Linked DNA regions of Homo sapiens: regions 1 and 2 are each linked to region 3. The links come from fine-mapping of genetic effects on gene expression. A gene starts in region 3. Each other region holds a variant in brackets. All regions are shown on one strand. Distances are between the middles of the regions. Region 1 holds the start of DOT1L-AS1 (DOT1L antisense RNA 1). Region 2 overlaps DOT1L (DOT1 like histone lysine methyltransferase). Region 3 holds the start of AMH (anti-Mullerian hormone).

Evidence for each region. PIP is the estimated chance that this variant, and not a neighbour inherited with it, causes the effect. A credible set is the group of variants that fine-mapping cannot tell apart.
Region 1: its variant is the best candidate, but not a certain one, in a credible set for the expression of AMH in prefrontal cortex (ROSMAP, PIP 0.85).
Region 2: its variant is the best candidate, but not a certain one, in a credible set for the expression of AMH in prefrontal cortex (ROSMAP, PIP 0.66).

The regions. Positions count from the first base shown.
Region 1 is chr19:2,211,775-2,219,942 of GRCh38, reverse strand. It overlaps DOT1L (DOT1 like histone lysine methyltransferase), which reads right to left. Exons shown (of 28, transcript NM_032482.3): 16 at 8,101-8,168; 17 at 6,303-6,404; 18 at 5,957-6,094; 19 at 5,347-5,472; 20 at 3,178-3,662; 21 at 2,853-2,988; 22 at 2,025-2,171. DOT1L-AS1 (DOT1L antisense RNA 1) reads left to right here and starts at 4,378. Exons shown (of 2, transcript XR_007067087.1): 1 at 4,378-4,449; 2 at 5,249-7,915. The variant T/C (reference allele first, on the strand shown) is at 4,842.
Region 2 is chr19:2,182,202-2,190,369 of GRCh38, reverse strand. DOT1L (DOT1 like histone lysine methyltransferase) reads right to left here. Exons shown (of 28, transcript NM_032482.3): 3 at 4,441-4,515; 4 at 575-638. Among named protein-coding and RNA genes, the nearest start is that of DOT1L, 22 kb to the right of the region's middle. RefSeq lists enhancers at 7,185-7,274, 7,465-7,624. The variant C/T (reference allele first, on the strand shown) is at 4,132.
Region 3 is chr19:2,245,884-2,254,045 of GRCh38, reverse strand. It overlaps AMH (anti-Mullerian hormone), which reads right to left and starts at 4,723. Exons shown (of 5, transcript NM_000479.5): 1 at 4,302-4,723; 2 at 3,567-3,709; 3 at 3,286-3,394; 4 at 3,038-3,197; 5 at 1,973-2,947. The coding sequence starts at 4,713. The coding sequence ends at 2,089. SF3A2 (splicing factor 3a subunit 2) reads right to left here. Exons shown (of 9, transcript NM_007165.5): 6 at 7,244-7,293; 7 at 7,024-7,164; 8 at 6,384-6,452; 9 at 5,391-6,279. The coding sequence ends at 5,500. JSRP1 (junctional sarcoplasmic reticulum protein 1) reads left to right here. Exons shown (of 7, transcript NM_144616.4): 5 at 253-426; 6 at 1,043-1,134; 7 at 1,250-1,794. The coding sequence ends at 1,717. MIR4321 (microRNA 4321) reads right to left here and starts at 3,407; the gene lies at 3,328-3,407. RefSeq lists enhancers at 475-684, 4,641-4,780, 6,835-7,336, 6,635-7,712, 7,966-8,162, a silencer at 3,341-3,400 and promoters at 4,714-4,745, 4,714-4,923, 4,714-4,993, 4,745-6,779, 4,714-7,712.

The sequences.
Region 1 (8,168 bases), 34 kb after region 3:
CCCAGGCGAGTGGCGCAGCGAGAGTGCGCGGTGCCTGCGTGTGAATGGGCAGCGGGCCTGAGGCAGGGAGGTCAGGAGGCGGGGGTCCCGGGGTCCAGCTGTGGGGAGGGGGTACTGGGCACAACCCAAGCAACCCACAGCCCGCCCTCACCGGGAAGCGGCTGTGTTCTCCAAGCAGCACAAATGCCAGCAGTCGGGTGGGGTGAGGAGGGCGCTTGCGAGAACACACCTGCCGGCCACCACCCACTGCACTTCCCCACACCACACTCCAAGTCCAACAAAGGTCAGTAGAGTGACCGCAGAACCCAGTAGCTCCACTCCCACATGGGCCAAAGAGCAAACCTACATCCACACAGAAACCTGGACCCCAGCGCTCACAGCAGAACGATTCACAATCGCCAAAACAGGGAATCAAGCCGGGGTCCATCAACTGGGCACGGATGAAGATGGCACACTCCATCCACACAGGGAATGCCCTCACGTGCCAAGAGAAGGGACAGGCCCAGACATGAGCGTGTTCGGGGGCCCGGGGGCTGGGGGACGACTAGGGAGTGACTGCTGAGGCGGGCAACGCTTTTTCCCGGGTGAAGAAAATGTCCTGAATTAGACAGAGGTGTATAAAAGTACAAAAAACCGGCCGGGCACGGGGGCTGACACTTGGAATCCCAGCACTGTGGGAGGCCGAGGCGGGTGGGTCGACTGAGGCCAGGAGTTCGAGACCACCCTGGCCAACAGGGCAAAACCTCCACCTCTATTAAAAATACAAAAATTGGCCGGGTGCGGTGGCTCATGCCTGTCATCCCATCAATTTCGGAGGCTGAGGTGGGCAGATCACCTGAGGTCAGGAGTTTGAGACCAGCTCGGCCAAGATGGTGAAACCCTGTCTCTACTAAAAATACAAAAATCAGCTGGGCATAGTGGTGCATGCCTGTAATCCCAGCTACTCGGGAGGCTGAGGCAGGAGAACTGCTTGAACCCAGCAGGCGGAGGCTGCAGTGAGTAAAGATCACAAGATCGTGCCACTGCCCTCCAGCCTGGGCAACAGAGCAAGACTCCGTCTCAGCTGGTGGGGGCGGGGATTAACCGGGCGTGGTGGTGGGCACCTGTAATCCCAGCTACTCGGGAGGCTGAGGCAGGAGAATGGCATGAACCTGGGAGGCAGAGATTGCAGTGAGCCGAGATCACACAATTGCACTCCAGCCTGGGGGACAGAATGAGTCTCCATCTCGAAAAATAAAAAAAAAGAAAGAGGCCAGACGTCGTGGCTCACGCCTGTAATCCCAGCACTTTGGGAGGCCCAGGCGGGCGGATCACTAGGTCAGGAGATCAAGACCATCCTGGCTAACACGGTGAAACCCCATCTCTACTAAAAATACAAAAAATTAGCCAGGCGTGGTGGCGGGCGCCTGTAGTCCCAGCTACTCGGGAGGCTGAGGCAGGAGAATGGCGTGAACCCGGGAGGTGGAGCTTGCAGTGAGCCGAGATCGCACCACTGCACTCCAGCCTGGGCGACAGAGTGAGACTCCGTCTGAAAAATAAAAATAAAAAATAAAAAATAAATGCTAAAAACCACTGAAGCATATACTTGAAGCGCACAATTTTTAAAAAATAGTTCAATGCCCAGAAAATCCCGCCCATGCTACACAAGACGAGATTCTCTGCATGCACAGCGCTGGGTGGGAGAACCCAGAGGCAGCTGTGAGGACAGGGGCCACGGCAGCCAATGTGGCCTCGTGAGGAGTGAGGCTGGGAGCCAGGGTGGGCCTCTGAGCTCCTCCTCAACCCAGAAGGTGTGAGGCCCTCTCCACTTGCACACGTACCTTTCACCCAAAAGAAAAAGACTGGCGAAAACAACGGCCCAGGTCACCGGACACGCCCCGGCTTTGGACAGCCCACCTTGACTGCATTGCCTCACGCTCGACATTTTACAGCGTGAGACTTCGCAAAGTGAGCCAGGTCTCGAGCACCCCAGACTGTTTTGCCTCAACGTGGCCCTTGGGGACAGCCACCTGGGAGCCACTCACCGCCCTCTCGGCGCGGCTGGGCAGCACCACGCTGGCCAGGGGAATGCTGACCGGGAGCTTGTTGGGCTGCACGGTGCTGAGCGGGATGCTGATGGGCAGGCTGGTGATGAGCTCCCCGCTGCTGCCGTAGGCGCGCTCTCTCAGGCCCTGCAGACGAAGGCCCGACCCCCAGTCGTGGGTCAACAAACCCCTCCAGGACACAGGGACCACAGCCACAGGACGGGGGCCTGCTACAGCTCTCTCAAGGCGGCCCCCACGCTGCCAAGGCCCTGCAACCTTCCCCACGCAGTCAGGCCCTCCTGGACACCGGCTTTGGGACACTCCAGAGGGACGGCACGCTCCTGGTGTCTGAAAGCAATGCCCATCTGTCCCCTCCAGCCTGCCCGCCCGGCTCGGTGGGCAGTCACCCGTGGGGCCACCAAGCCTCCCAGGGCCCACATCCATCACTGCCAAGTCCATGCAACGTCACCGTCCTTCCCTCTCCATCCCTGTGCACACAGGCCAGTGCCCCCGGGGAAGTCCTCATGGGCAGCGGCCTCCCAAACTGGGCTCTGTGTCTCTACCAGCACTTGCCGTCCGTCACTGAGAACTAAGAGGCATCAGGGACACCCTGACAAACCCCATGTCCTCCATGGCACCTGCCCAACGTCACCTGTGACCTGTCCTTACTGGTTGCCCCCAACTCTGCCACAACATCCTACTCCAGGTCAGCCCCAGTACCTCACCGTGCCCCAAGGTCAACTAGGACAAGCCCTCCTGCTAGCAACTCGCTCAGGCCGCCTCTGCTGAGCACCTCCCTGAGCCCGGGGCAGGGGTCGCGGCCCGCACCTTCTCACTGCTCTTCTCTCCAGCAAGCTGCAAGGCCCCAGGGGACAGGGGCCGCGGGTCCTGAGGGCTCAGCTTCATGCTGCCAGGCACGCTGGGGCTCTGGTAGGGAAGGCCGTTCTCCTTGGTGTGCTCAGCTCTGGAATGAGAAGCTGCAGTCACTCTCGAGGGCCGTGGGCTGGCACTCAGAGGCAGCGGCCTGGCCCAGCACCTCCCCACCTCAGTCTCCTCAACAAACACACTCCTGCTGAGAACCCGACAGCCTGAGCACACCAGGCAGAGTCGGCAGGTACCAGCTGCAGACCCCCAGCCCCACCAGGGCACTCACCTCGAATGCAGCTCACTGGCAGCCGGCCTGCCGGGCACCGTGTGGTCCTGGCTCAGGTGCCGCCTCAGCACAATCTTGGCCGGGGACAGCCTAGTGTAGTCGGGTGCGGCTAGGCCAGACAGCTTCTCCAGGCGCGGCCGGCCGACGTGGCTAGGGGTACAGGGCACCACCTCCTGGTCCAGGGGTGAGGCCAGGTACTGGGGCGTGTTCTGCTTCGACGAAGGCCGGCTCAGCACACCGCAGAGCTCATAGCCAGCAGCCTGGCCGTTCATGGAGAGCTCCGGGCTCATGCTGCTCAAGTGAGGCAGCGAGAACTTGGTGCAGTCCAGCTCCAGGTGCAGCCGGCTGGCGTCAGGCTCCAGCTCGCGGCCCAGGGCGCCCTTCCCACGCAGGTGCAGGGACAGGGCGTCGTCAGGCGGCACACAGGACTTGAGCTGCAGGAGCTCCTGCTGCCGCTGGCTCTTCTCTAGCTCCACAATGCTGATCTGCAGGAGGAGAGATGGTGTCAGGCCCGCCCCACCGGGGGACCACTCCAGGGAACCAAGACTGCCACAGATGGACACCCGGAGGGGTGGCCAGGACCCCCGCTGCTTGTGTGGGATGGAAAAACCAAAGCTGCCGACCACATAGAGGCGGGGTCGGGAAGCTGGGGGCGTCAAATAAAGTCATGTGGAGGGCCGAGGATGGTTTTTGCTGACATGGAAGCACCTTCTTCAAAAAGAGCAACAGGAAGATACAAAGAGCTCTCGTCTCTCAAAATAGACTCTAAGTGTAAAACATCCAGTTTCACTAAGTGTAAAACCTGTGGAGGGACACGCCACTCGAGCGTGGCAGCTTCCCCGGGCGCTGAGTCTGAGAGGGGCTTTTTCCTTTTAGTTTATCTGTTCTGTTTACCTGCTTTCCTTTCTTTTAACAAACACATTGTTTTTTTATTACACAGAAAAGATGATGACAAAAATGGTCAGAACCCAAATATGCTCTTCCCGAGGGCTCTACTCCAGGCAGACCCACAGGGCCCGGCTGTGGTAAAGAGGTCGGCGACCTCCGTTTCTCTAATGTACGCTGGTGAGGCTCGCCTGGGCCACACACGTGAGGGAGCAGCTCGGGAGCACGTGAGTGGTGCTTCCCGACGTCCGTCAGCCGCCCGTGAGAGCCCGCCTCCGGGGACAGCCTTGCAGCAACGGTTTGGTGCAGTCATTTGAAAAGGCAGCAGAGGTCCAGCGACAGGGCACCAGGTCCATCAACAGTGAAACCACGCTGGGGACACGTAAGGTGAGCAGGCGGGCACAGTGTCGACGGGATGGGGCTCTGGGAACAAAGCCCGTGACCTGCTGCTTTCTAGGCTGCACGGCAGCTGTGGGCACCGCCCACCAGCACCTGCCTCTGCCTGGGAGCAGGGAGGAGAGCACCTTCCCGCTGCACACCCTCCTCCACACTTCCTCTACTCGGCCTCCACGAATGCGTTTCTCGGTGTCAGAAAGTACAAGCTATTTTATTTTTCAGATGGGGCCTGGCTCTGTCACCCAGGCTGGAGTGCAGTGGTGCAATCTCAGCTTGCTGCAGCCTCCACCTCCCGGGCTCAAACACGGCCCTTTTTGCCTCAATATGGCCCTTGGGGATGCCATCCTGGGAGCCAGAACTCCTGCCTCAGCCTCCCTGGGAGC[T/C]GGGACTATAGGCACACACCACCACACCCGGCTAATTTTTGTATTTTTGCTAGAGACAGAGTCCCACTGTGTTGGCCAGGCTGTTCTCCAACTCCTAGCCTCAGGTGATCTGCCCGCCTCAGCCTCCCAAGGTGCTGGGATTACAGGCATAAGCCCCTGCACCGATCCAGCTGTTTTTCTAATGAGCAAATTCTCCCCTATGACTGTTACAGAAATGATTTGCAAGGAGGCAGCCAGGAAATCAGGAAATCCTAGGTTAGCGCTGCGCATTCAGCCAAGCAATCCCGAGATGCCCCCGAGAGCTGAGGGCTAGAGTGAGGCAGAGTCATCCACACGGGCAGCCTGCGGCCCAAGACAGAAGGTTCCATAAGCCTCCACCCAACTGTCCTCCTCCACCTTCTTCCTAGGCTGCTGCAACCGCAACCACCCTAGGCTCAACGACGTCACAGGGAGGCTGATGGGAGAGGCTCGGACACCACGGAGTGCAGCCTCGCGCGCAGCCCACCTGCAGCTCCAGGCAGTGCCTCTGCTTCTCCGAGATCTGGCTCTTCAGGGCCTGCTTCTCCTTCAACAGCTTCTCCAGCGACAGCGTGGCCCAGTCCAGCTGCAGCTCCTCGCAGCGAGCCTTGAGCTGAGGGGATAGGGATGGGACAGTTGCGACTGGCTGGCTGCCTGCCCAGCACACCCCACACTCTCAGGGCAGGGTTCCCTGGGCCTGCCTCAGCCAACAGCATGTGTGCTTAGGGCACAGACCCCGTTTCTGGAATAGCAGGCTGAGGATGCGGAACACGCGGAGACTGGGGCCCCCCACGGACAGATGAGGCAGCTCCAGCACCCACACCACGATGGTGGGATGCTCGCATGACCCCACACCTCGAGCCTGCCAGAGTGTGGCTCCATGACACCCAGGGCCGCTGAGAAACCATCCAGCCGAGGGGCCCAGGCCTGCCTGCTGTGACGCGCTCGACAAGCTTTCACAGGTGGCGCAATTCGTCTGGGAACAAACCCCACAACAGAGGCGGGCCTTCCAGAGCCTCCCACCCGCACAGAGGACACACCCGCCCAGGCAGGGCCCCTCTGGTTCCACGTCCCTGTCCTTGCGCCGCGGCACCCACCAGCTGCAAGCTCTGGCCGCGGAGCGCGCGGTTGTCCTGCTCCAGCTGCTCCGACTGCTCCCGCAGCTGCTGGTTATGGGCGGAGATCTCCTTCTGCGCTTGAATCAGGTCGTTGTAGGTCAGCGCCTTCACACCCAGCTGGGGACATGGGGCGGGGGAGAGGTCATGCTGGTGGCCTCCAAGGTGAAGTAAGCCCCCAGGCATGACCACCCCTGCAGCCCAGCCCCTGGGACACAGCTGGACAGAGGCATAGACAGGAAGCCACAGGAAGCCATACCGACGGACATGGACCACCCCAGCCTGCGCCCCAGCTGCCACCTGCCACCTGCCCTCTGGGGTCCACTACCTCATCCAATTTTTGCTGAAACAGCCTCCTGATCTCCTCCTTCTGGGCCTGGCAGTGGCTGAGGAGCTGCTGAGCCGCACCCAGGAGCTGGGCGTTCTTCTCCTGTAGGACAAACAGGGCAGGTGACTAAGGGCCAGGGCAGGTGACTGAGGGCCCACAGGGAGGGCCCACGCCCTGCCTCTCATGCTTCCTGAAGACACGCTCAAGGACAGACATGCCTGAGGGGACCCACACCGGGCTGAGATGTCAAGAAATACTCAGGCCACGGCGGGAGGGGACCAGCTCTGCATCAGGTTCACTGCAAAGAACTCTCGCCAGCTGGAGGGACTGCACCTGCCACCCCACCTGGACTCAGCCAGGGCAGCGCCCCCAGCCACGCAGAGGCCGGCCAATGCCAAGGAGTTTATCCCAAGGCAATACCAGGGGATGGACTTTTCACATGGATCTGCAAGGAAGCCTTCTGCAGCGTAACAGCAAACACTCAGTGTCCGGAGGCCCACCTCCAAGGGAAGACCCCAGGAGCCACTGACACAGGACAACCTTCAGACACCAGCAGAGAACAGGGCCCCGGCCCAGGCATGCTGTCAGCTACACAGTGAGCAATGCATGTGCATATATGCTCAAAGCACGCTGTAAGCTTTTTTTTAAAAGCAAAGCCAAAGTCCAAAATGCAAACCAGGGCTCAGGGACAGCCGACCTTGTGGCTCCAATGGCTTTTGGAGTTATCTCTGGGCCGCCAGAACTTCCACCCCATAGCCCGGCCCTAGCTCCCCACTAAAGCAGGTCCTCGGAGACTCCCAGGGCGGGGCCCCACAGCCGGGACCTCAGGTGAAGGAAATCATGTATACAGTGGTCCATTTCCAGGACAAACTGCCTTGAATTGGCTTAGGTCAGCAAACTACAGAAGAGACAGCATGTACTAGGCCCCTGCTTGGATCGCTGATGCCTGCTTGTCAGCCTCCCCTGCCCCCGCTTCCCCCGGCTTAGTTGCCCTCACCCGAACCAAAGAAGTTTAGCCTAAGATGAAGGTTTACCAGCCTGCAAAAGAGCTGGCTTTGTCTGTTCTTAATCAGCCTGCCCAGCTACTTAGATCATAAGTCAAATACTTGAACAGTCCCTGAGCTGACTGGGATTGCAATGCACAAAATGCAGCAGGACAACCCTAAAGAAAACACCTACAACCGGGCGTGGTGGCTCATGCCTGTAATCCCAGCACTTTGGGAGTCCGAGGCGGGAGGATCACGAGATTAGGAGATCAAGACCATCCTGGCCAACACAGTGAGACCCCGTCTCTACTAAAAATACAAAAAATTAGCCGGATGTGGTGGTGGGTGCCTGTAGTCCCAGCTACTTGGGAGGCTGAGGCAGGAGAATGGCGTGAACCCGGGAGGCGGAGTTTGCAGTGAGCCGAGATCACACCACTGCACTCCAGCCCCTGCCGAACCAATAGGCGACAACTGGGAAGACTGTGACCTCACAGTACTCAGCCTTTGAGGAACCGGGGGAGGGACCTGTGCACTAGGGGGAAGGTTGCTTGTTCAAACTGTGCTGGGTGTGCCTATCAGACACCAGGTCTTGCAAAACCATGATTAAAAGTCTCATTTTCGCTGTTTTCCGGGTCTCTCAGTCCATTCTTTGGGTTTAAACGGGTAGGTTTGTTTCTCGCAGCAGGTGAGCAGAGGAGGGAGCCCACTCAGGCCTGCGCTCCAGGGCCTCTGCCACAGGGGACAGATGCCCAGGAACAGGAACGAACTGCCTCTGTGCGGGAAGGCGGAATGCCAAGGGGGCCAGGACCCACCTTCTCCTGGCCCAGCAGCTCCTGCAGGCTGGCCTTGTACTGGGGGGTCTTTGTGTATGCCAGGAACT
Region 2 (8,168 bases), 64 kb after region 3:
CTTCAAGAAAGAGCTCCCCTACCCCCATGCACCAGGGGCCCCCGGTGCTTTCTAGAACATGGGAAGCAGCACGTTCCCCTCCCTGCTACACCCCAGCTCACTGTGTGCCCCGTCCTCTGTGAGGAAAGCCTCACGAGACACAGCAGGACCGGGGTGCCCAAGGGTGCAGCCCAGGCCGGCATCCAGCCTGATGAAGGCAGGCGGTGTGGGGGAGGTCCAAGGGGGAAGGCCGGCATTCACACAGCCCGGGGAGGACAGGGACCCCGCCTCTGCTGGGACCTGCGGACACCAACCCAGGGCTGCAGAGGCGTGTGCAGACACCACAACCCTCAGGGCCCTGCCTCAGCACACAAACCACGGACGGCTCTGCTTTGGCACACGGCCACAGCACACAGCCCAGCCTCGGCAGCCCCCACACCACTCACCCACAGCCCATCGTCCCCCCACGCTGCACATTCCAATCCCCAGGGGCTCTAAGGGGAGCTCTGTGCCCCGAGGCGGTGACATAAGGGGTCTGGAGGGGTCCGGGAGCCTGGCACTACTAACCCCCTCTGGGCAGGGGCAAGCCACCTACCAGCTGGTGGATGCTGTCGATGGCACGGTTGTACTTGTCGCAGAGCCTCTGCATGCTCTCGAAGCTGAAAAAGGCAAGGGAAGGCCCTGGTCATGCGGGCAGGAGCCAGCCGCATGCATGGGAGGGGACAGCATGTGGATAAGGCAGGCTCCAAGGTGTGGTCCCTGCCTGGACAGCCACCAGCCAGCTGGCCAAGACCCTTCTGGCAGAAGCCTCGCTTTCCGCCCTGATGCAGGAGATTTCAGGTTTGACACACAAGCGAGGTGGCCGGCCGAGAGTCCGGTGCAGGGAAGCACTGAGCCCTGAGGCAGTCTGGACCTGCCCAGGCTCCCGCGCAAAGCCGAGGTCCACGTGTGCTGGAGGCGTGAGGAGAGAAAGAGGGCTCGAGGGGGACTGAGGCCAGCCCCCCAAGTGGGAAACCCTGGGGCCGGCCTTAGAGGGTCTTCCTTGCCCTGGCTGGGGACAGCCACCATCGCCAGAGGCAGGTGAACGGCTGGGGTCTCCCAGGGACCACCAGGCCTCTGCCCGGGCAGGTGCAGGAGGAGTGAGCACTGCAGAAAGGAAGATGCCTCACCCCCACCCACACTGCTCTGTGAGCGTGTCCTTCCAAAGCTCCAACTCATTCACACGTCAGCAGTGTGTCATGTCAGCAGTGTGTCACGTCAGCAGTGTGTCACGTCAGCAGTGTGTCATGTCAGACACGGCACAGCAGGGTCCACAGTGAGACTCAGTCCCCCCGCAGCAACTCTGCCCTCCTTGCCCTGGCCGCAAGGCAAACCCTCATTACCTAAGTGCCCACAACCCAACAGCATCGGGGCAGAGCCCACCAGAGGGCAGGGGGCACCTGTGCTCCAGGGAGTGCCCACTGTCTGTGGGGCACGTGAGCCACAAGAAACACCGGCCACGCGGCCCAGCCAGGCCTGGGCTCAGAGGGGCTTCCGGGGTGGGGGCAAGCCTGCTACGGGGTCTGCCTGGCCTAGTCTGTCCAGTCTCCACCTGGGATAACTTGCTCATCTTCCAAGTCTGTTGGACCCACTGGCAAAATGTGGACAACAGCGTCTGTCCCTCCACCTCAGAAGGTGTCCAGAGCAGAGCAAGAGACAGGAGGAGGAGGCGTACCTGTCCAGTGAACACTGTCACACACAGTGGCTCTCACCGGGGACCCCAGGAATGTGGCGAGGCAAGCAAGAGATGGAGGCAGGGACCCTGCTCGGCACCCTGCAGTGCCCAGGACGGCCCCTCCCAGAGAACAATCCGACTTCCACATCCCCAGCGCCGAGGGGGCCTGCACCTGTGCGGGTGGGGGGGGGGGGGGCGGCGGCTGGGGACTCTTTCCTCCGCCTCCGTCCTCCGCCACCTCCACGTGCACGCAAGCAGTTTCCTCCCAATGGCAACCCCAAGAGCCTGGCAGATGCTCCGAGACGTGGCTAAACAATCACACCCCTGCTCCCACCCCAGCCCCAGCCCCATGCTCTTCCTGCCCTGCCCTGGCCACCCTGAATTCACCTGGGCACTGCATGTGCCGAGGTTCACACTTCCCCTTCCTCATAGGAAAACCAGTGCTCCACAGGCCAAGTTCATGTTTTCCTTAACCAGCAGCTGCATAGGATAAAGCAAGAGAACTTAAGAGGAGCAAACACCAAGAACAAGAGCCTGCCGACAGCCCCGGGAGCACGGCCACACAGGACCTGGATCCTCCGGAGGACGAAGGACACGGGGGTGGAAGGAGCCCAGGTGGTGCAGAGGGCCAGCAGGCACCATGCGGGCCGGAGGAACCCACAGAGCCGGCCTGCTGCCTCCCGCCTTCCCCGCAGCTCCAGAGGAGCAGCCCTGGCCCTTCCTGTCTTTTCACTTCCCTTTTTTTTTTTTTTTCTGAGATGGAGTCTCGCTCTGTCACCCAGGCTGGAGTGCGGTGGCGCGATCTCAGCTCACTGCAAGCTCCGCCTCCCGGGTTCACACCATTCTCCTGCCTCAGCCTCCTGACTAACTGGGACTACAGGCACCCGCCACCACGCCCGGCTAATTTTTTGTATTTTTAGTAGAGACGGGGTTTCACTGTGCTAGCGAGGATGGTCTCGATCTCCTGACCTCGTGATCCATCCGCCTCGGCCTCCCAAAGTGCTGGGATTACAGGTGTGAGCCACGGTGCCCAGCCCCTGTGTTTCCACTTCTACACGCCGCCTTCAACCCTGACAACCAGACCTTCCCAAAATCACCTCTGCACGCTCCTGGGAAGAGACTCTTCCCTGGCAGGCTGTGCAAATGCAGGTGCTCAGAGGAGCTGGGGCTGTCCTTGGTCTGAAGCCCTAATGGCTCGGTCCCTCAGGTGGCCCTGCCAGCTCCAACGAAGACCCCCTGCCCAGCCTGTCCCTGATGTCCTTCCAGCCTTGGCTAAGCCCATCCCACGCGAAGAGGAAGGACGCCACACACCCACGTGGAGGGGCGCCGTGAGCACAGCGTCTGACACGCTCGCTGCTCAGAGCCAAGGCAGAAGCTGGCCACACACAAGTGAGGTGCCATAACTGCCCCAGGTTAATGTGAAAGGGCTCAGCCCGACAACACCCACTCATCCGAGGGGACTCTAGTTCCTAACAAAGCTCCTGATCCCTGGGAACTTCTAGGTGACAGGAGTGTCTTCTGTTGTAAGGAAGCGACTTGTGGGGGGCTCCTGGGTGAGGTAAAGCCCAAGCTGCGGTAAGAAGCTTAGAAAGAGGGGACTGGAGATGGAGGCAATCATCAAGCAAGTCTCCGAGAAGCCTCCGTGAAAACCCGAAAGCACAGGGTGCAGAGCTTTGGGGTTAGTGCTCCCCAACTCCACGGACACAGAGCTCTGTGCAGGGCCCTGCAGGCCCCTCCCTGTGGACCCTGCCATGCGGCTGTTGATCTGCACGCTGCATCACACTCTTCATACTAAACCAGGGAAGGGCCCAGCACACCATCACGCCCAATGAGGGGGGGTGGCGAGAGGCCCCGACATGCGAGGCAGGTGGCGTGAAATCCACAGCAGCAGGTCGGCACGCAGGACCCTGCCAGCAACACGCTTGTCTGCCTGTGGGGCACCAGGGTGCTGACCAGGGAATGGGCAGGGCTCGAGGGAGGGGCACAGGATCTCGAGGTTTACTGAGGCTGAGACCGCTGACCCCAGACAAGAGTCCCTCCCACATGCCAGTGAGGCCGGAGAGCCAGGTAAAGTGCAGCCGCGTGGCCCTCTGGGCTTGACTCTCTGTGGAGAGGGGCTCACCTAAGCTCACGACAGCACAGCCCTTGATGGAGGACTACTCTGTTGATTTCAGACTCAAGAGCTGAAAAAGGCATGAGCCTGGAATGTCTTCCTTGTCAAAGAAAAACAAAACACTTCCAAGCAAGCATTCCAGAGACAGCCCTGCCCCTCTCCACCCACAAGACCCTCCTCCGAGACCCAGGAGCTGCCAGGGCGAAATTGCTAACGCAGCCACAGGGCTGGAGACAGAGGGACTAACCAAACCCAGCTGAGATCTAAACAGAGCTGCCAAGCAGCCTAAGGCCGCCCAGGCCCTCCCAGCAGCCTCAGGCAGGAA[C/T]GCGGACTTCTGGCCGTCAGCCGCCCGCTATAAAAAGAGCGATCACTAGCGCGGGCTGACTCCACACATGCCAATCCCACTTTCCACAACCGGAGTTTCCAATTCTGTCCGGCCTCTGACAGCCTTTGCCAAGAGTTGATAAACATTTCCTACCAAAATAACTTTATGGTGGCCACGGCCAACTCTAAAAGGAAATTTCAGATCAGCTTGCACCATCTAAGAAGAGCTAATTATAGGATGCGTCCTCCTGTCCTCCCCAAGAGCCGAGTCTGTCCTCGGAGCGGAGCGGCTGGACAGGACTCTGCTTACCTTTTGGTGTCATAGTCAATTAAAACGTAATTCTCCATAGCGAGCTTGAGATCCGGGATTTCTTCACAGACCCATCTGAAACACAGCAGCAGAAACGATCAGGAAGGGTTTGGTTTTTTTTGTTTTGTTTTGTGTTTTGTTTTTGTTTTTGTTTTTGTTTTGAGACGGAGTCTCACTCTGTTGCCCAGGCTGGAGTGCAGTGTCGTGATCTTGGCTCACTGCAAGCTCCGCCTCCTGGGTTCAAGCGATTCTCCTGCCTCAGCCTCCCAAGTAGCTGGGACTACAGGTGCCCACCACCACGCCTGGCTAATTTTTGTATTTTTAGTAGAGACCGGGTTAGGCCATTTTGGCAAGGCTGGTCTCAAACTCCTGACCTGAAGTGATCCGCCCACTTCAGCCTCCCACAGTGCTGGGATGACAGGTGTAAACAATCTTGAGTATTACCCCGCATGTTCTTAAACACTGCATCCTCTCCAACAGAAAACAAACATCCTTACCCCTCCACTCAAAGTGGAGAGAGAAGGGAGGCGTGACTTCAAAACGAAGGCTACGATGTTTACCACGAAGCTGTTACTGAATCACACAGGTATTACGTGGCTTCGAGGCCACACACCAGTGGCTCTGGGGACCTAAGTGAACTTATCTGCTACAGGGCTGGTCTAGGGACCCACTGGCCACATCAGAGCTCGAAAAGCAACTGACTGACTAGAAACTAAAGCCAACTGGTGCCGGGTGCGGTGGCTCACACCTGTAATCCCAGCACTCTGGGAGGCCGAGGTGGGCAGATCACGAGGTCAGGAGTTGGAGACCAGCCTGACCAACATGGAGAAACCCCGTCTCTACTAAAAATACAAAATACAAAAACACACTGGTGAATTCCATCAAACACTGACAAGACAAACACTAAACCTACAGAAACTTTCTCAGAGTTTTATGCAGCCAGCGTCATCTTGACACCAAAACCATAGAGACGCAAAGGGCTGGAAAGAAAGGACAAGAAAGGCAACAGCTGACCAACATCCCTGACCAACACACCCCACTATCCCTTAAAAACGTGAGGAAACCGCAGCGGCACCTCACAACCACACACAGCACCTCCTGGGGAGGAAAAGCTGCTTCACTCTAAAATTAGTCACTGCAATTCACCGAAGGAACAAGGACGGAGATCTGAGCAGCCCCGTGTGGGCGAGTACGGAAAGCCCACAGGACGGCATTCGGTGCCATCAGGACGGTACCCTCCAAGAGGCCAGAAATGGAAGGACACGCCTTCCGCTTGGAAAGGGCACGGGACCAGTCACTGAGCCGCTGTGACAGCAGCAGGCCCACCTTCCGCAGCCACCTGGCCTGCGGCTCTGCAGGAGGGGTCAGGGAGGGATGGGGGTTCGGCCTCTGCTCCCCAGTCCTCTTGACCTGCTAAGTCCAGCGGGCAGCTTCCCAGAACTCCGAGAGTAGCTTCATTGCCCCCTACCCCACGCCAAGTCCCCAGACTCCCCAACCAGCTGGCCAGGACCTGACCTCAGGTCCGGGTGCCCTCCAAGACCCTTCCACACTGAAAGACACAGCATCCTGTCAGAAGGGCTGTGGCATCCGCCCTCTGTGATTATTGGTGCCTCTCGTCACCCGTCCCCAGCATGGTCAACGCCTGCACACCTGGCCAACACCGGCAGGGGACCTCACAATGCAGATCATCAAAAGCCCCAGGCACCGAGCGAGGCCCCGAGAGCAACCCAAGCAAGGCCATCTGCAGTCACTTCTCATCACACTGTCCAGGAGGTTCCGGCCAGCGCAACTCGGCAAGAAAAACACTCAAAGCAGCAAGGAGCCTGAAAGGAGCGGCCGCACGGTCTTCACTCAGTCCCGTGGTTCTGCGCCACAGAGCGTGCTGAGGAATACGCGCGGACACCGCCAGAGCTCAGCAGGGGCATGGCCGATAGGCAAAAGGGAGCAGTCTTTACACATACTAGCAGCAAAGGATTGTCAAAATGCCACATAAAAAAGCACCAAAGGCCGGGCGTGGTGGCTCATGCCTATAATCCCAGTGCTTTGGGAGGCCGAGGCAGGCGGATCACGAGGTCAGGAGTTCGAGACCAGCCTGATCAACATGGTGAAACCCTGTCTCTACTAAAAACACAAAAATTTGCTGGGCATGGTGACGGGCGCCTCTAATCCCAGCTACTCGGGAGGCTGAGGAAGAAGAATCACTTGAACCCCGGAGACGGAGGCTGCAGGGAGCCGAGGATGCGCCACCACACTCCAGCCCGGGCAACAGAGTGAGACTCCGCCTTAAAAAAAAAAAAAAGCACTGAAGCAGGAATACCTGGGAGTGACACTGTTTAAACGCCCCTTTCCCCAAGCTGAACTGCAGGCTCAAACCAATTTCTAGAAAAAGCCCAGCTAGCTTTTCTGGAGAAATGGAAAGGCTGATTCTCAACGGACATCCAAACGAGGAGAGCCTAGGACAGCCCAATCATCTTTAAACAACAGCCCTCCCCACACTTCGGGAGGCCGAGGCGGGTGGATCACTTGAGGCCAGGAGTTTGAGACCAGCCTGGCCAAGGTGGCAAAACCTCGCCTCTACTAAAAATACAAAAATTAGCTGGGCGTGGTTGCAGGCACCTGTAATCCCTGCTACTCGGGAGGCTGAGGCAGGAGAATTGCTTGAACCTGGGAGGTGGAAGTTGCAGTGAGCTGAGATGGCACCACTGCACCCCAGCCTGAGCAGCAGAGCCAGACGCTGACTCAAAAAAACAACACCACTGTGGGAGGACGTGCTTGGGACACTGGCCGTATGGGGACTGAATGGTGTTTGCTGTGTAAGAACGTCGTCGGTGTTTCTAGAGGAAGTGAGACAGAAAAGGTCTGTGCAGCCACACCGTGAGAACCCTGGCCACATGCTGGGGATGCACGGGAGAAAGCAGCCTCTCCAGGTGGTGGGGGTTCGAGTTTCGAGGTCTCTGCCTACGTCGCGGATGCCCAGGTGTTGGTGCACGCCCCTGTGCCTGGACCCTGCTCCCTACAACGCTTAAGCTCCAGACTCCAGATGCGCTCCCCAGAAAACACACAAGGTTCAAACAAGACAGTCAGCTCCGAGCCCTGCAGAAGGCGAGCATGCAGCCAGAGAGGCACTCTCACCGCCACTGCCTGAGATCCGGGGGCCTGGGGTCTCCTCTGACCCCAGAAGTCTGTGCAGGCCCCTTCCCATGGGGAGCAGGTGCAGCTCCCCTGCTGCTGAGCACCTCCAGACACACTAGCAAGCGCCTGGTCAGAGAGGGGCTTCCACCCCTGCTGCACCGAGATCCTAACCCAGAGAGACCACGTCTGGGCAGCACTGGCAGAACCTGCACAGTCACAGCCCCGGGAAGCCACAGCCCTGGAGCACTCTTTCTTGTTTGGGTTTTGTTTCTTGAGACAGGGTCTCACTCTGTTGCCTGGCTGGAGGGCGGTGGCACAATCACAGCGCCACTGGTCTCAAGTGATCCTCCCACCTCAGCCCCGCAAGTAGCTGGGACCACAGGTGTGCACCACCATGCCCAGCTAATTTTTTACTTTTTTGTAGACTTGGGGTCTCATTATGTTGCCCGGCCAATCTCCAGCTCCTGGATTCAAGTGATCAACCCTCCCAGCCTCTCAAAGCACTGGGATTCCAGGTGTGAGCCACCATGCCCAGCTGAGCATTATTTATTTATTTATTTATTTATTTTTGAGATGGAGTCTCACTCTTATCACCC
Region 3 (8,162 bases):
GGCAGGGAGCCTCTACTAATGCGTAATAATACCAGCTATGCCACTCAGCTCCGGGAAGTTACCTTCCAGAAACTCTAGGCATCCCCGTGCAGCTGCGGGGCACCCGGGGCTGGGTTCACCTGCGCCCGGGGCCGCACAGGCAGGCAGAGAGAGCCGGGTTCAGGGCACAGGCCTGTCTCTTGTCCCCTGCGCCCGGGGAAGGGGGCGGCACAGAGCCAGTGACCACAGCGCAGCGCGCACTTGCCCCCGCAGGCCCTCGGAGCGTCCCCGCGCGCAAGAAGGCGCAGACCGCGCCGCCCCTGCAGCCGCCGCCGCCGCCCCCGGCCCTGAGCGAGGAGCTGCCCTGGGGAGACCTGTCGCTCAACAAGTGCCTGGTGCTCGCCTCGCTGGTGGCGCTGCTGGGCTCGGCTTTCCAGCTGTGCCGCGGTGAGCGCAGGCTCCCCAGAGGTGGGGCGAGGCTGGGGTCCACCTGTGCGCCTATTCCTCCAAGGAAAGGCGCTGTGCCGCCAGGGTGGGGTCTGGGAGCCTCCTCTCCAGGGCTGGGTCTTGCACGCCCCCAAAGTTGGTTTGTGCATCTCCCCTTAAGTGACGGGCCTTGCGCGCCCCTCTCACCCGGTGTGGACCTTTTGCGGGGCCCATTCCCCTCGCCGCGAGTAGGTTCTGGCTTCCGGATGAACCTTGTGCAACCCCTCCTGCCTCGTAGCGTTCTGCCGCCTTTCCCCTGCGCCCTCTCTGGGGACCGCTCAGCTCGTGAGCGCCCCCCGGGGGCACTCCTGCGACCCCTCCCTTGCTAGGGGCCTCCTACAGCCCGTGGTCGGGGGGAAGAATGACCAATTGAAAGAGCGAGGTTCGGAGAAGGGGCGCCGCGGCAGCGGAGTCCCGGAGTCCCTTCCCACGGCTCGGGGGCATCCTTAGTCTCAGCCGTACCGGGGGAGCCCCACTCCAACTGTCCAGGGAGGGGGGCTCTAGGGGTGAGGGAGGGATGGACAGTGTGGACCGTGCCTCGGCCCAGCTGACTCGGGTCCCGACCCTGTCGCTGCAGACGCCGTCCCTGGGGAGGCAGCACTCCAAGCACGTGTGCCCGAGCCCTGGGTCCCGCCAAGCTCAGCCCCGAGGGAGCCATCGTCGCCCCTGGTAAGAGCTTCCTTCCACTGACCGCGGGCATTGGGACCTTCATCCCCAAGGAAAGAAGGAGCCCGGGCCGGGGGGAAGGTGGGCGCTTACCCCAGGACCCCACTCTGTCTTGCAGCCTAAGTTCGAGGCCCAGGCGCCTCCATCAGCGCCGCCTGCGCCCCGGGCCGAGGCAGAGGTCAGACCCAAGATTCCCGGGAGTCGGGAGGCTGCAGAGAACGACGAAGAGGAGCCCGGCGAGGCCACCGGAGAGGCCGTCCGGGAGGACCGTGTGACCCTCGCAGACCGGGGACCCAAGGAGAGGCCTCGGAGAGAGGGGAAGCCGCGGAAGGAGAAGCCGCGGAAGGAGGAGAGACCTAAGAAAGAGAGGCCGCGGAAAGAGGAGAGGCCACGGGCCGCCAGGGAGCCCCGGGAAGCCCTACCCCAGCGCTGGGAGTCACGCGAAGGGGGCCACCGGCCGTGGGCACGGGACTCCAGGGACGCCGAGCCCAGGAAGAAGCAGGCCTGGGTGTCCCCGAGGCGTCCCGACGAGGAGCAGCGGCCTGGGAGTCGCCAGAAGCTCCGCGCAGGCAAGGGGCGGGACTGAGCCGGCCCCGCGCCGGAGTCCAGGGGCCCCTTCTGGACGCCCCGCGACTCTGGCGAAATAAAGCGAGTGCTGCGGCCGCAGAGTCACCTGCTCCTTTACGCCTGGACCCGGCACCAAGTCCGGGGCCTGAAAGACGGTGGTGGGGCGCTTCAGGCAGGGGAGAGACAGCGAGCGCTACAGGGCGGACCCGGGCCGTGCGCGAGGAGAGACGGCAAGGGAGGTCCCACGGGCCCCCTAACACGCACGGACACCCCAGCCGGTTGCTTGCTGGTCTTTATTGGGGCGATGCTTGGGGTCCGAATAAATATGGGAAGGGGCGCGAGCTGGGGCGCGTCCGGACCCTCGGGGCAGGAGTCCGCGCGGCGCAGGGGTCACCGGCAGCCACACTCGGTGGCCACCATGTTGGGCACGTGGTGCGCGCTGATGCGCTCCTCCGACAGGCTGATGAGCAGCTTGCCCGCGTAGGCGGTGGGCACGCAGCAGGGTGGGCGCGCCAGGGCGGCCCCACGGACCTGCATCTTCAGCAGCAGCACCACGTGGTTGCCGTAGCGCGGGTTGCGGTCGGACTGAGGCCAGCCGCACACGCCCTGGCAATTGTTGGCCTGGTAGGTCTCGGGGATGAGTACGGAGCGCTCGGCGCGGAGGTCTACGCTGAGCTCGCGCAGCGCGCACGGCCCGTCGGCGGCGGTGGCCCCCGCGCTGCGCTGTGCCCGACCCGGCCCGCGCGGATCCCGCCCGCGCCACTCCACGCGCAGGCCCTGCAGCGCCTTCAGGAGCAGCAGCGCTCGCAGGGGATCGCCGAGGCCGCCGGGGCCACCTGGGCAGAGCGCGAGCAGGCGCGCCAGCAGCGGGGCTGTGGCCGGAGGCAGACCCGGGAGGCTTCGCAGCTCGGCAGCCGCCGCTTGCAGTTCAGCAGCCACGCGGCGCGCCAGGGCCGTGGCCCACGGCGCCGACGTGGGGTCGTGCAGGGGCGCAGGATCCCCGGTGGTGGCCGCAGTGGGCCTCAGCAGCAGCAGCAGCGGCTCCTCGCCGTCGAGTAGGCGCTCCAGCGCCGCGGGGTCCGACAGGTTGACTAGGCCCTGCGGGAAGCCGGCCAGCGCGTCCGGATCCAGGGCCAGGCGCGGCGCGGAGGCCCGGGCCGGGGGGACCCGCAGCGCCCGCACCAGGCGCGTGAGCGTCTCCAGGAAGGGGTCTGCGCTGGGTGGCGACTCCTCGAGTTCCGCGGATGGCCTGGAACCCGCAATTGGAGGAGTTGAGAGCGGCCACGAGGCCACGCCGCCCCCGCCCGCTCCTGCCCCGTGTCCCGGTGCCTGCGCGCACCTGGGCGGCGGGAAGGGCACGGTGTCCAGCTGGCCGTGCGCAGGCAGCGGCGCGGGCTCGGACCGCGGCAGCAGGAGCAGGGCCGGGGTCATCCGTGTGAAGCAGCGGTGGTCGTCGCCGAACAGCAGTGCCTGCAGCCGGGCGGTACTCAGCCGGGAGTCTGCGGTGGGTGGGCACGCGGCTGGCTCAGGGGCTGGGGGCCCGGGGGCAGTCGACCCGGCTCCCCGTCCCTCTCCACGCGGACCTACCCTCTCCGCGGGGCTGCAGGGTCAAGGCCAGCCCGGAGCCGCGCCAGGCCCCCGCAGGGCGGTCCACCGCTAACACCAGGTAGCGGGTGTCTCGGGAGGGGCAGAGGCTCTGCGGAGACCAGGGCTCAGCCCGGCTGGATGGAGGCTTACCCAGCCCCGCTCTACCGGTCCCCTTCCTCCCATCGCCACTGGTTCTACGCTGTTCTCAGTACTGCAGACCCTGCAACAAATCCATGCCCCCCGCCACGGCCCGGGCACTGCCCCATGCAACTCCCTGGTACCTGGGCACCCGGCAGCCCAGCCCTCGTCACAGTGACCTCAGGGCCAGGCCCAGGGTACAGCACCAGCAGCGCCAGCTCTGGGGGGCCAGCTCCTCCAGGCGGGGGCTCCTGGAACCTCAGCGAGGGTGTTGGCTCCCAGGTCACTGCAGCCGGGACAGCAGGGGACGCCTGAGCCATTGAAGGCCACACCCCCCGGGAATCTTTGGGATCTGTCCCTGCCGCTCTGGCCACTGTGCAGGGGACCTCAAGCGGGGGACAAGGGTGCCCCTCTTAGCTGCCTTCCTGCAGCCAGGGAGCGGTGACGGCAGGGGCAGGCAGGGGCTGCGTCTGAGGCTGTGGGTGGGGCTGCCGCCCTGGGGTCTCTGGGTTGGGGTGCCCGATGAAGCCCCTTCCCCGCAGGGAGTATCTTAGGCCAGCGGCCCTGAGAACAGGCTGGGGCTGTGGGAAGAAGGGTTCCACTGGCCCCGAGCCCTGCGTCGTCTTCAGGGGTGGGGAGAAGGCAGCAGCTCTCTCCCTGGCACCGAGGCAGGGGCAAGTCTAAGAGCTGGGCTTCGGGGACAGGACAGAGTGTGGTGCCCACCTTCCAGGCCACGGACCCGCAACCCAGTCCTAGGAACAAGACCACAGCCTCCCTGCCCAGGGTGGGGGCTCTGCCAGCCCCTGATCTTCCCTAGGAGGACCCGGCCCACCTGAAGGAAGACGGCGGTGCCAAGCTTGGGGCTGGGCCCCACATACCTTCCTCCAGGTGTAGGACCACCAGGCGCTGCCCCCCAGGGTCCCGCAGCCAGGCCCCCAGCCGCCGTAGAGAGGGCAAGGCAGCCTGCCTGTCACCGGTGTTGCAGACCCCGAAGGTGGCCAGGTCTCGGGGGCCCCAGCGGGCCCTCTGCACGGCCCCCAGGAAGGCCTGCTCATAGGCGCTTAGAGCCCCCACCACCCGCAGGGGGGAGCTGCTGCCATTGCTGTCCCCGCCCAGTGCCACCAGGCACAGAGGCTCTTGTGGGCTGCCTGGAGGCCAGTCCAAGTCTTCTCGGAAGATGAGGCCACTGGTGCCCACAGCTGGCTCCTCTGCTCTGAGGGCCTCAGTCCCCAGCAGAGCCCCCAGGGCAGACAGCACTAGGGCCAGGCTGGTGAGAGGCAGGTCCCGCATCGTGGGTGCTGCCAGGGGCTGGGCTGCCTGCCTTAAGTGAGCCGAGTGGAAGGTGGGGTGTTTGTGCAGGACAGACCCCTATCTCCTCTGCCGCGACCTTGGGGGACAGTGCCCGGCGCCCCCACTCCAGGCAGAGTGGCCTTCTCAAAGAGCCCTTTCTGTCCCTGGCAGCCTATCTCCCTCCCCAGTGATAGAGCTGGGCCTGATGTGTCAACATGCCGTCCTTGAGGGCCATCCCCAGAAGACACAGGAGTGGGAACCAGGCTGGGAGTGACGGCCAGGCAACCAAACTAGACAGCGCTGGGGGCGGGGGGCCCAGATGTCCTGGGTGCTGAGGTGTGGGCCTGGAGGAGGAGGGTCCCAAGTCAGTGGGGGCGCCCTGTCCCTGCTCACCCTCCCCACCCCTGGTGGGCTATCTGGAGACCCCAAGGATATCGTGGAGTCTGCTCTTCCCTCCCCAGAACAGGACCCCAGATCCCCTCCTAGCTGGCTGGTGGGGTCTGTCCTCCACCAGGCCATCTCCAAGGTACAGCCATCTCTCAGGCCTCCCACAGGTGTCTCCTGGCGGGCCCCAGGCCCTCCCCAGTCGGCCCAAACTGGGGGATGGTGCTGTGCCTGGCACTCCCACACACACTGACACAGTAGGGCGGCGCTGCGGACATCAGTGCACTCAGGGCTGGGGGAGGCTGTTTAATGAGCGGGGGGCAGTACAAAAGAGCAGCCTTCTCTCAGTGGGAAAAGGCAAGAGCACCTGGCGCTGGGCTTGCTGGGGGAGGGAGCAGCTTCTCAGTTGGTTGGGGGAGGGGGAGGTATGTTCCCTGGGCCTTCGGAGGGAAGTGGGGGCCTCAGCATTGGGGGCATGGGAGTTGGGGGGTGCACCCCAGGATTTGAGGGGTGAACTCCCGGAGGCTGAGGGTGGACCCCAGGAGCCGACGGATGGACCCCGGGAGGTTGGGGGTGGACCCCCGGGGCCTGAGGGTGCATCCCTGGGGCTGGTGGGTGCACCCCTGGGGCCTGAGGGTGAACGGCGGGGGCTGCTGGGTGCACCCCCGGGGCCTGGGGGTGAACCCCCGCTGATGGGGGAGGATGGACCCCTGGGGCTGGTGGGTGAACCCCAGGGGCTGGTGGGTGGACTCCGGGGGCTGGTGGGTGAACCCCGGGGGCTGGAGGGTGGACTCCAGGAGCTGGGGGGTGGACCCCAGAGGTTGGTGGGTGGACCCCAGGGGCTGGGGGATGGACGCCAGGAGCTGGGGGGTGGACGCCAGGAGCTGGGGGATGGACCCCAGATGCAGGGGGATGCACCACTGGGGCCGGGGGGTGGACCCCTGGAGCTGGCGGGGGTAGCTGGGGTGGTCCCGGGGGCCCTGAGGGCGCAGGCCCTGTGGGGGGCATGGGTGGCAGAGGCAGGCCTCCTGGCGGGGGCGGTGGCAAAGACTCAGGCAGCGGTGGCCGAGGGGGCAGACCGTTCATCAGCGGGGGTGGAGGCCGCTTCACCCCAGGGGGGCCAGCAGGGAGGCTGGGTGGAGCCGGGGGCTTCTCCATCTTAAAGTGGAACTGGAGGAAGAACTAGAGAGACGGAGAAAGGTTCAGCAGGCACGGGTGGGGCTAGGGCAGGGCTAGGGCCGCCAGGGCTGGGTGGGAAGGAGCCAGGCTCGGGGCGAGCCACTCACCTGCTTGGTCTCCCGGTTCCAGTGTGTCCAGAACTTGCCCTCCGCCTTGTCGATCTCTCTGCTCGGCACCTGGGAGGGCGGGGGACAGAGAGGGCTCCTGGTCCCTGTGACCTCAGGGCGACCATCAGGCAGGGAGCCCGAGGCACTAGCCTCCCCAGCCCGGACTCTACCCTGGGAGCCCAGGAGAAGGCTGGTAAGACTTTCGTGGGGCACAGGGTTCAGTTCTGGAGTGAAACAGACCTGGCCTCAATGCTAGCACGCTGTTGGCCCCCTCCCTGGGCAGTCACCGTTTGTATTATTTGTTTCCTGATGGCCGCCCTGTCCAGGCATGGGGACAGGCTGTAGGAAGCCCTCCAGCAGCCTGGCCCAGGAAGTGAGGTCACTTGGCAAAGGCCTCACAGGCCTGGCGCTCAGCCCTGCCGGCCTCCCTTCTCATTGGCCCAGTGGAGCCCAAGCAGGCCCTCCTGCAGAGCCCAATGGGAGAGGTGCCCTGCCCGGCCTGTGCAGACCCTTCTGGCTCCGACTTGGGGGGGGCCCAGGGGACCCCAAGCCCGATGGGAGGGGCATCCTGCCCAGCCTATGCAGATCCTTCTGGCTTGCACATCTCAAGGGGGCCCAGGGAACCCCGCAGCCACGCTACCTTGAAGGCAATGGTCTCGTAGGGCTCGGCGGCCATGAGCAGGTACTGCCAGCGCCGGTCCGGAGGCTCGATCCTCTGCTCGTACGCAGACATGAAGCGGTGACGTGGCATGATGCCCTCGGCGATCTCAGGGTAGTCAATCTGCAGGGACACGGCCGGGTGGCAGAGCCGCCTCTTGGGTGCCTTTGGCCGCCCCCCACGCCCAAGTCCCTGATCTCACCTGGAAGAGGAGGCTCTGCTGGCCCATCTCCGAGTCTCTCTGCTTGGTCACTGCAACACAGAAAGCTCTCAGGTCCCGGCTGCTTGTCCTCTCCGAAGCTGAGGAACCTGGGGCAGGCTAATGCCACCCACTGAACGAGAGCGGGACCCCGGGGGAGGCCCTGCAGCTCTGGCAACCATTAGACAATCTCCGCCCAGGCTCTGGGATTCTGGTATAGGTGAAGGCACAGGTGCGCCAGAGCTGAGCTACCTGCGGAGTCACTCAGGCAGGGACCGAGGATGGTGCTCCTTTGTCCCAATCCCCAGAGCCCTTCACCAGGGGTGCTGGGATACCACCCAGCAGGAGTTGGGGCCACTGGGTAGGGAGGGGCCCTCGGCACCCTGGCTCTGGGATTCGAGCGGGGCCGCCTGAACAGGGCTGACACCATGTATACGGTGAGCGAGAGAGGATGCCCTTCCCGCCAGAGCTCAGCAGCCTGGACCCCGAGAATGGCTGCTGGGCTGCCTGCCGCCCGGCCACTCTCCATGCGGCCTCAGACACGCACACTCACAAGCCCTCTGCCGCCTCACCGTCCTGAGCCCAAGCCCAGGACCTGTCAGGGCCTCCCCACCAGGAGCCTGCCGCTCTAGCCACCCTCGCCCACCCGGTGCACCTGCCCCGGGACCTCTGCCCTGCAGGCTTCTGTCTGGAGGCCAGGCACACAGGCTGTCCCCGCCTTCTGTAAAGAACACTTGCTGGGTAGCGTGCCCGCCTTCCTGAACCCTATGGACACAAGTCTCTATCTTCCACCCTGGTCACTTCCCCAGCTTTCTGAACCGGGGTCACCTCTAGCCATTCCCACTGCTGAGGGTCCGGGAGGAGCTGCCTCTAACAGCCGCTTCTCCCTGTCCTCCTTCAAAGGCTTCAAGGTTAACCGGAG